Linked DNA regions of Homo sapiens. The protein of the gene in region 2 purifies or fractionates together with the protein of the main gene of each other region. This does not show direct contact. Each region holds a gene or a part of one and is shown on either strand. Other genes may lie near its edges. The genes, in order: WDTC1 and PLA2G12A.

Region 1 (3,808 bases), on a different chromosome or scaffold from region 2:
CACAGGCTCCCCAAGCCCTCCTTCTCTCTTCCCCCATCCACCTTCTCAAATCACCCCCGGCTGGCCTTCAAAGCCACATCCAAGGCAGGGGGCCCTCAAGGACAGTTCTGTGGTCTGGGGAAGCCAGAAGTGTCAGGCTGGGGACGCAGGGTCTGACCAGCAGGCAGCAAGCCCTCAGCCAGACCCCCCCCTGTCCTGGCTGACTGATCCACAGCAGCTGTGGCCTCTACCTCCTGGGGCTGGAGGATGGGGCCTGACAGTCTGGCAGAGTCAGCTCTCTGGAAGCTGATGGTAAGGGGGGTTGTGCACACCAGGAGCTCCAAATCGTCCCCACTCACTTCTCCAACCTCCTGAAGCATGGATGAAGGGAAGTGGGAGTGCTTTTGATGGGGAAGCGGGGAAAGAGGAAGTGAAAGGAGGTCAGAGAAGCCCCTCCTTTTCCCACCCTGTGCCAGAATATAGGAAGCATACTCCCCCAGCACCCACAGACCTGTCCTTGCCTCTTGTCTGGAGAGCCAGACAGGCCACAGGAACTGCTTCTTCAGAAGCCATTTTTTTTTTTCAGCTGGGCTGGAGTAGGCCTAGGACCCAACTGTGCCAAGCAGCAGTAAGAGGCACCCCTTAGAGTTAATGGCCCCTTCTCCAAGGGCACAGCTCACAACAATCCGGCATGGCTAAGGCAGGCCTGACATGGGAAGGTTCTTCCTGAGCCTCCTTCTGCAGCACTCAGAGGGAGCACCCAGTCCTCGGAACAGCCACGCTCAGACCAGGAACCAGCAGCTCAGCCCATGTGGGGGCAGGCAGGAAACAGAGCTGCTTCAATGGCGTGGCCTGCGTCAGGATGAGTGGCTCTGACGAAGGAGCAGGCACTGTTTGGAAACCCAATTACTGCCTGCAAGGTGCCCCTCTGAGCTCCTGGGGAGAGCCAGACCAGAGACCAGCCAGGAGCCAGAGGGTGACAGCTCCCACTGCATCCAGGAGCAGATGGCAGCCCTGGGGAGACTGGCCCAGGACAGAATGTGACATTCTAGGGGTCACTGGCAGGCATGTGGGGATGGGGGTAGAGAGCAGGCTGGCCCCAGGGCTCACCCTTCCTAGACTCACTGCCAGATCAATCTCCCTGAAAGGACAGCCCTCGGCACATCCCTCTCCTGCTCAGAACTCTCCAGTAGCTGCCCATCATGCACTGAATCGAGGCCAACGTCACCGCTCTGCATTCCAAGCTCTCCCTAGGCCGGCCCCAGGCTACCTCACAGACTCATCTCCTGCCAGTCCCTTTCCGAACCCTCTGCTCCAGCCAAATGGATTTGCTGTTCTGCAAACAAGCTCTTCAGTCAGTCCCCCACCCCCATGCCTTTGTTCACACCATTTCATCTCCCTGGAATGTCCTTCCCCCACAGGCCCCTCCTCTCCTTCATCTCCTGTCTAAGCCTGCCTACACTTAAAGCCCATTCAGACGCCATGTCTTTCTGATGCTTCCCTGCTCCCCAGCTAAAGCGACCCAACTTTTCTTGATGCCCACAGCCCTTTACCTGACCATTCACAAGACTCACTGCTTCCTATCTCTTTAATGCTGAACTATGTCCACCACTTTACCCACTGTCTGGAGAGGCTCCTCTGGAGCACAGGAACTCAGAGTGATAGAACTTTGTGTTCCTAGTACCTAGCACATAGTAGGAGCTCAGAGAACATGCTGAGGGCACATATGGATTAGGAAATCACCAACCTCTCTTAGCAAGAATGCAGGAGTGAAGCTGAGCTCTTAGCCTACAGCCTGGATGAGGACCACTGAGTTCTACCCAACTGTTTGTTGGACAGAGAGGTGAATCAACTCACGATTCATCCAAAACAGTCATCTCCTGGGTTTGGCTACCACCTGAGCCCTTGGCCAACTCCTGATGCCTTAGCTAAGGCCGGGGGACAGCATCTTCCCCACCCCCACCTAGCATTACCATCCTGCTGACTTGGGTGGGTTTCTTAAGTTTCCCTCTCTGGCCTGCCGAGTTGCAGCCAGACGATGGCACACCAGCTGGCCTGTCTGTCTGGGCAGAGCCGACGGATGCCAGACGGAGCAGAAATGGCTGTGGGCCCAGCTCTATCCATCTCTAGTCCTGGCCCTGGCTGGGGGATGGGGGGGCGGGGTCTGCATGTCTGCTTGCCTGCTGGTGCTGCAGGCAGTAGGGCTGGGGGCCCTGATGGTCTCCAAAGATGAGGAGTTCTTTCAGATATGGTCTACTTCTTTATTACCAGCCACCATACCCTAGCGTGACCCATAGCCAGCTTTGGATCTCTGGGATATGGTTTGTACTCAGTCCAAAGGGTCTAAGAACACAGAAAGCAAGCCTTAGAGGGGCAAGGGACTGCAGAATATTTTAGACACATACCAACTGAATTCACCAAACCCCTCATTTCCACTTAGCAAGATTCCACTGCTCTTCAAAGTCCAATTCTCCAACAGTTGGGACTAACAGTCCTCAACTCATACTTCCCCAGGGGCCACAGCACTTTATAATAATATGCCATGTAGAAACTAGTTTTGAACATGTTCCACGTAACTGTGAGCTTCCTTAGTGCTTGAGACTTCCTGATTAATGGGTCAGGTGCCTGCCCACCATTAGCCTGGAGGTGGGGAGGAGAGGCCAAGAAGCCCTAAGAGGCAGCAATATGTTCTTGCCACTTTCCCTGGATGCCTTGGCAACTTGGCTCCATCAGGCCCCTGCCTTTTGGTCCAGCTGCTTTCTCCCTCATCCTGACCCAGATCCCCTCTGCAGTGGCCACTCACCACTTGCGCTTCATGTAGGCTGCTGCTCGGTTTCCATAAAGCATGGCATTGTGAGGGGCCCTCTGCACAGCCTTGCTGTAAAGCTGAATGGCTTGGGTCCACTGCTGGCAGGCAAAAGCCTCATTGGCTTGCTGTTTCACACGCTCCAGGTATGGTGGTAGCTCTACTTGGGGGCTGCAGGGGAAATAGAGCCAAGTCAGAACAGTCAAAGAAGGTCAGAGCAGCCCCTCAGGGAGTCTGTAACATGGCCTGAGGGCCACCCAGATTTTCTTGGCCCCTGGGATCTGACTGCTATCTGGAAGAGGGGACCACTACCCTGGTCTGGGATATTACCTATTACTGTGATAGGGAATACCATTTGGAATTTCATTCCAAATACCATTCCAAATACTCTCAGCCAGTGAAAAGAAGGGCAGAAATGAAGCTGTACTTCAACTCCTGGGCATGGTAGTAGCTGATACCACCTGCCTCCATGCTGAGCTGAACCTTATGACCACCCGAGTCCCTCCTGTGGATCGCTGTCTAGAGAACTCTATTTCTCTCAAGGCTAGGGAATTTGAGCGCCTCTGTATCCAAAGCCCAGCACAGAGGCTGGCAGAGAAAAGAGGCAAGGATATGCTATAGGATGGGGAATAATATAATGCGGAGGCCCATTTGTATGCAGCCCCTTTTTGGAGACAGCTCAGTGCTAAGAGGCAGCTAGCTCCTGAGTCCTGACCCCAGTTACTGGTACCAACAGGCTAGAGCTACAGTCTGACCATGACTAGTGTTCTGCCAGGCAGAGGGGCACTGGAAACACTAGGCACCCTCCAAGAAGGCTCTTTGCCTTGGTCCTCACTCTCTGGGATGCATGAGTGGGTGTGGGTCAGGAGGAAGATTTACAGGTTATGTCCCTCCCTCCAGTCCATATAGTGTAACTGGGGCTTGGAGGGCTGGACAAGCCAGCTGGCCTCACCTGACATGTCCCCTACTCTCCGGCAGCCGGAAGCCATTGCTATGAAGGTGCAGGCCATTGGACACACCGTT
Region 2 (4,259 bases):
GGTTCAAGCTATTCTCCTACCTCAGCCTCCCAAGTAGCTGGGACTACAGGTGTGCACCACCATGCCCAGCTAATTTTTGTATTTTTAGTAGAGACGGGGTTTCACCATGTTGGCCAGGCTGGTCTCGAACTCCTGAGCTCAACTGATCCGCCCGCCTCAGCCTCCCAAAGTGCTGGGATTACAGGCATGAGCCATTACGTCCTGCCTAATTTTTTTTTTCATTGAGATCCAATTATCTATCAGTATGGTGACTTGGACTTGAAACCACATGTCCGTTAAACGTAGAGTACTTACTAAGACAAAAAATTTTTTTTCACTGAGGCATATAACATTTCTTAAATTCTCAAATTCCTTTGTGTTTTTTTGTGCCAGAGACCTTCCTCTAAACTCCAAATAGTAAATTTTGAGAAGCCTGTAGAAGATGAAAAAGATTAAAAAGAAAGATTAAGCCAGGTGTAGTGGGGGCATGGCCTATAGTCCTAGCTATTTGGGAAGCTGAGGCAGGAGAATTGCTTGAGCCCAGGAGTTGGAGGCTGCAGGGAGCAATGATCACACCACTGCCCTCTAGCCTGGGCACAGAGGGAGACCTTGCCTCAAAAATATTAACAAAAAATAAAATAAAAAGACTAAAACAGTATTTTAACAAGGCTGGTATTCATTCAACTTCAGGCATGTTTTAAATGTAAATAAACTCTAGAACCCTAGACTAATAAATTTATGAAGACGACTCCTTCCAAGTCTTCCCTATCTCTGTAAATGGCAACCGTTTCCTTCCTTTGGCTCAGGCCAAAACCTTCAGAGTCATCCTTGACTGGCCTTTCTCCTCAGGTCCATTGCACTTGCTATTCCCTCTGTCTGGAATGCTGTTTCTCCAAATAACCACATTCCCTCCCCTTACCACGTGCAGATTTCTTCTCAAATATTCTTTCATCAGTGAGGCCTTTGCTGAACAACCCATTTAGAAGAGTAAATTGCCTCCAACATGGCCCCTCGTCTGCCCTGATCAGACTCCACACTTCCCCTAATTTTACTTATTTACTAGTTTACTGCCCATCTCTCCCTCACCAGAACTCAAGCTCCACGGACAGAGATTTTTGTCTGTTTTATTAACTGCTGAATCTCAAATTAGAACAACATCTGAAGCACAGTTGGGACTCAAATATTTGTATAATGAATAGGAATGACTAAGTAAAACTGTAACATTTGCTTTAGGAAAGGCAACTATTTGATCCTTAAATTATGCACTTAATCCTCCGAACAAGTTCTACAAGAATAAAAACATCTTCATGAAGCATACGTTTAGGTGGTAACGTTTAGGCACAAATTTAAGAAGCAATGCAACATGTCTCAGCACCTGTTCAGCGCTTTAAAGTATACAAGATACAGTTCATCCTTTACTTCTATTAACATAAAACTAGAAATTATCTTGAAAATTGCAGGCAGCATGTGGCATCATAGGTTTACATGATACCAGTTCCTTTTAAGTTCACCTATACAATCAGGTTCCAACAATGAAGTCACTGGATCCCCGATTATTTTCCGCTGCCAGCATAATGAGACTCTAACCTTGGCTAATCTTATTGGAAACATGATCTCCCAACTGCTCTCTTAACATTTTCAATTTCCAAACAAAAGTCCAATATTTTTCTGACCTATTAAAATATTTAAGCACTCAAAAATGTGCTACAAAAGAACTATCTCTGCCTGAAATACTGAGTTGATTAGTACTCATACCGCCACCAAACAAATTCTCAGGTTCAAAGAGAAAGTTCAAAAAATATTAAAAGAGTAAATGAAGATAACTGTATTAACGTTAACCAACAATGAGGAGGAGGCGGGTCACTGATATCTAAGGAAAGAAGAGTTATCGGAACCCTTTCTCAACACTCGAGTACACCAAAAGTCTGTACAAAGGTCGCAAGTTATTGTCTATGGGTTTGCAGAAAAAAAACCATTTAATATCAATTATAGAGAAAGTTAATACGGCATGGTTTTTAAATTCTCAGTTTGCTTCGCATGTTCATCCAATTTACAGAAGCAAAAATGAGCTAAAACCAGTCTGTTCCACTCTATTCCCATGATTCCTACGTCAGTAAGTTCTTCGGCAACTTGGTGCAATTGAGGGGGGGAAAAGGTAATTCAGAAGCAATGCAAATGGGACGGGGGGTACACCTCTCCGTTAGAATGTGACCTCTCACATTCTAACAATAGTGGTGCGAACTTGTACCCAGCTTGCTCAATCACTAGAACGGCAAGATTCTAGCAGTGGTTAAGTTTTTCCACAGCCGAAGGACACCGTCAAGGTCTGCCTTGCATCTGTCACTCACACCTCCAGGATCTCCGTCACCCCAATCCCCCGAAAGCACGAGCCCTCGCTGGGCCCGGGTGCCCCCTCACCGTCACTGCATTTATACTGGCAGAGACCGTCCTCGCCTCCCAGGAGGTCCAAGGCGGCGTTCAGGTACGTGTCTATCTTATGAACGCCGTTCCGGATGGTCTTCAGGGTGGCTCTCCAGTCGGTGGTCTGGGCCTGCTCCTGGCACCTGACAACAGCGGCCATGAGGAGGAGCAGGAGGGTGAGCGCGGGGCGCGAGAGCAGGGCCATGCGCGCAGCGCCGGGCTCTACGGGTCCCCGAGCCGCGGCGCGGGGCGCGTCCCCACAGAGTCCCCAGGACGCGCTAGGCAGCGGCGCGGGCCCCGGACTTGGCAGCAGCCAGCTCCATATCCACGCCTCCTTCCCGGCTGGCCCTCAGGATCTCGCTGTCTTTACGTGAACCGCCTCGGGCAGGCAGCGCCGTCGCGGGGACGCGCCCGCTCACCTGGACCAGCGCGCCCGCTCACCTGGGCCAGCAACCGTCCCCTGTGCGCCTGCGCCGGAGCACGGCGCGTCAGCGGCGCACGGGAGGGGCGGGACGCGCAGGGGTGGGGCGGGGCGGGGGCGGGGTTGGGGGGGGCGGGGAACCGGGGGAGGGGCGCGCGGGGCGGGAAACGGGGGCGGGGCCTCCATGCCCACGTGGTCTCCGCGGCACCCTCCCAAGACCCTTGGTCCTGGTTCACAAGAGAACCTTAAAAAGTACCCAGGCCTGAGCCCCTTTTCTAGGGAGCCTGATTACGTTGTCCCAGGTGGCAGTGGGCGTCGGTATTTTTTAAGAAAGCTCTCCGGGCTGTTAACCGTGAAGCAAGAGTTGCAGAGCTAACCCCGGTGGCCTAACCTGACCAGTCGGGGCTCAGCACAGTAGCCCCGAGAGACAAGCTTTTCTGGGTGTGGACAACATCGGAGAAAATAACCCCTGTGCCCCCTCGCAGAGAGCGCTGCGAGAGGTCCAGCTGAGTTTCCGGCTTGAAGACGTGGTTCCATTGGCAATGTGGGCAGAGTCCGGCTGTCAGCTCGCAGAGCAGGGCTTTTCCTCCTTGCGTCCTCTCCCGGTCCTCCAGATCTGCTGTGGCCGCGGTTGGGGGAGCGGGATCTGGAAGATGCCAACCCATGCCTTGGCGGTGCCTGACTCTAATCAGGACGAGCTAAATGCTAGTTTAGACTTTCCGGAAAAAGAAAATGGGCCAACATAAAAATCATAAAATTCTCCCCTGGTAAGGAAGAAACAGTAGTGTAAACTTAAATACAGTAAAAAGTAAAATAAATCTTAAGGAAGTCATTGTTTTTCTACTCAAGGGATTTTGTAACTTGATAGTTACAGTGACGTTTGTTTCTCTGTACCTACCACCCTGCCCCCAGCATTGTGCGGGATCCATAAATAACTATTGCAGTAGTACTTTGTATCAGTTGTAAATATCTGGTTATCTTAGTATCACAGCAGTTTCCAAGAATTTTACAGTAAGATCCAGAGCAATGTTGAAAGTATTGGGCAGACCAAGCGCGGTGGTTTACGCCTGTAATCCCAGCACCTTGGGAGGCCTGGAACTCCTGAGGTCAGAAGTTCGAGACCAGCCTGGCTGACATGGTGAAACCCCATCTCTACCAAAAATACAGAAAATTAGCTGGGCGTGGTGGCGGGCACCTGTAATCCCAGCTACTCGGGAGGCGGAGGCAGGAGAATCACTTGAACCCAGGAGGTGGATGGATGTTGCAGTGAGCTGAGATTGCACCACTGCACTCCAGCTTGGGGCACAGAGCGAGACTCTAAAAAAAAAAGAAAGTGAGTAAGTATTGGGCATAGGTGTGTCCTTTCTATAAGAATTACCAATAAGTTCTAGGTTTGGCCTTTTGTGTTTGTTACAAACTAAATGAGCTTATAATAAAC

What was found.
Region 1: the proteins of PLA2G12A (region 2) and WDTC1 purify together in Homo sapiens (affinity purification with mass spectrometry; one large-scale study listed by BioGRID and IntAct). This does not show direct contact.

The regions. Positions count from the first base shown.
Region 1 is NC_000001.11:27,297,086-27,300,893, reverse strand, and holds part of WDTC1 (WD and tetratricopeptide repeats protein 1), read right to left. Parts: coding exon 3,738-3,808; intron 2,957-3,737; coding exon 2,783-2,956; intron 1-2,782. UniProt on the Homo sapiens protein: May function as a substrate receptor for CUL4-DDB1 E3 ubiquitin-protein ligase complex.
Region 2 is NC_000004.12:109,727,205-109,731,463, forward strand, and holds the start of PLA2G12A (group XIIA secretory phospholipase A2 precursor), read right to left. Parts: upstream 2,867-4,259; 5' UTR 2,606-2,866; coding exon 2,398-2,605; intron 1-2,397. Other genes in the region: CFI (complement factor I isoform 4 preproprotein), read right to left, coding at 4,029-4,138. UniProt on the Homo sapiens protein: PA2 catalyzes the calcium-dependent hydrolysis of the 2-acyl groups in 3-sn-phosphoglycerides. Does not exhibit detectable activity toward sn-2-arachidonoyl- or linoleoyl-phosphatidylcholine or -phosphatidylethanolamine.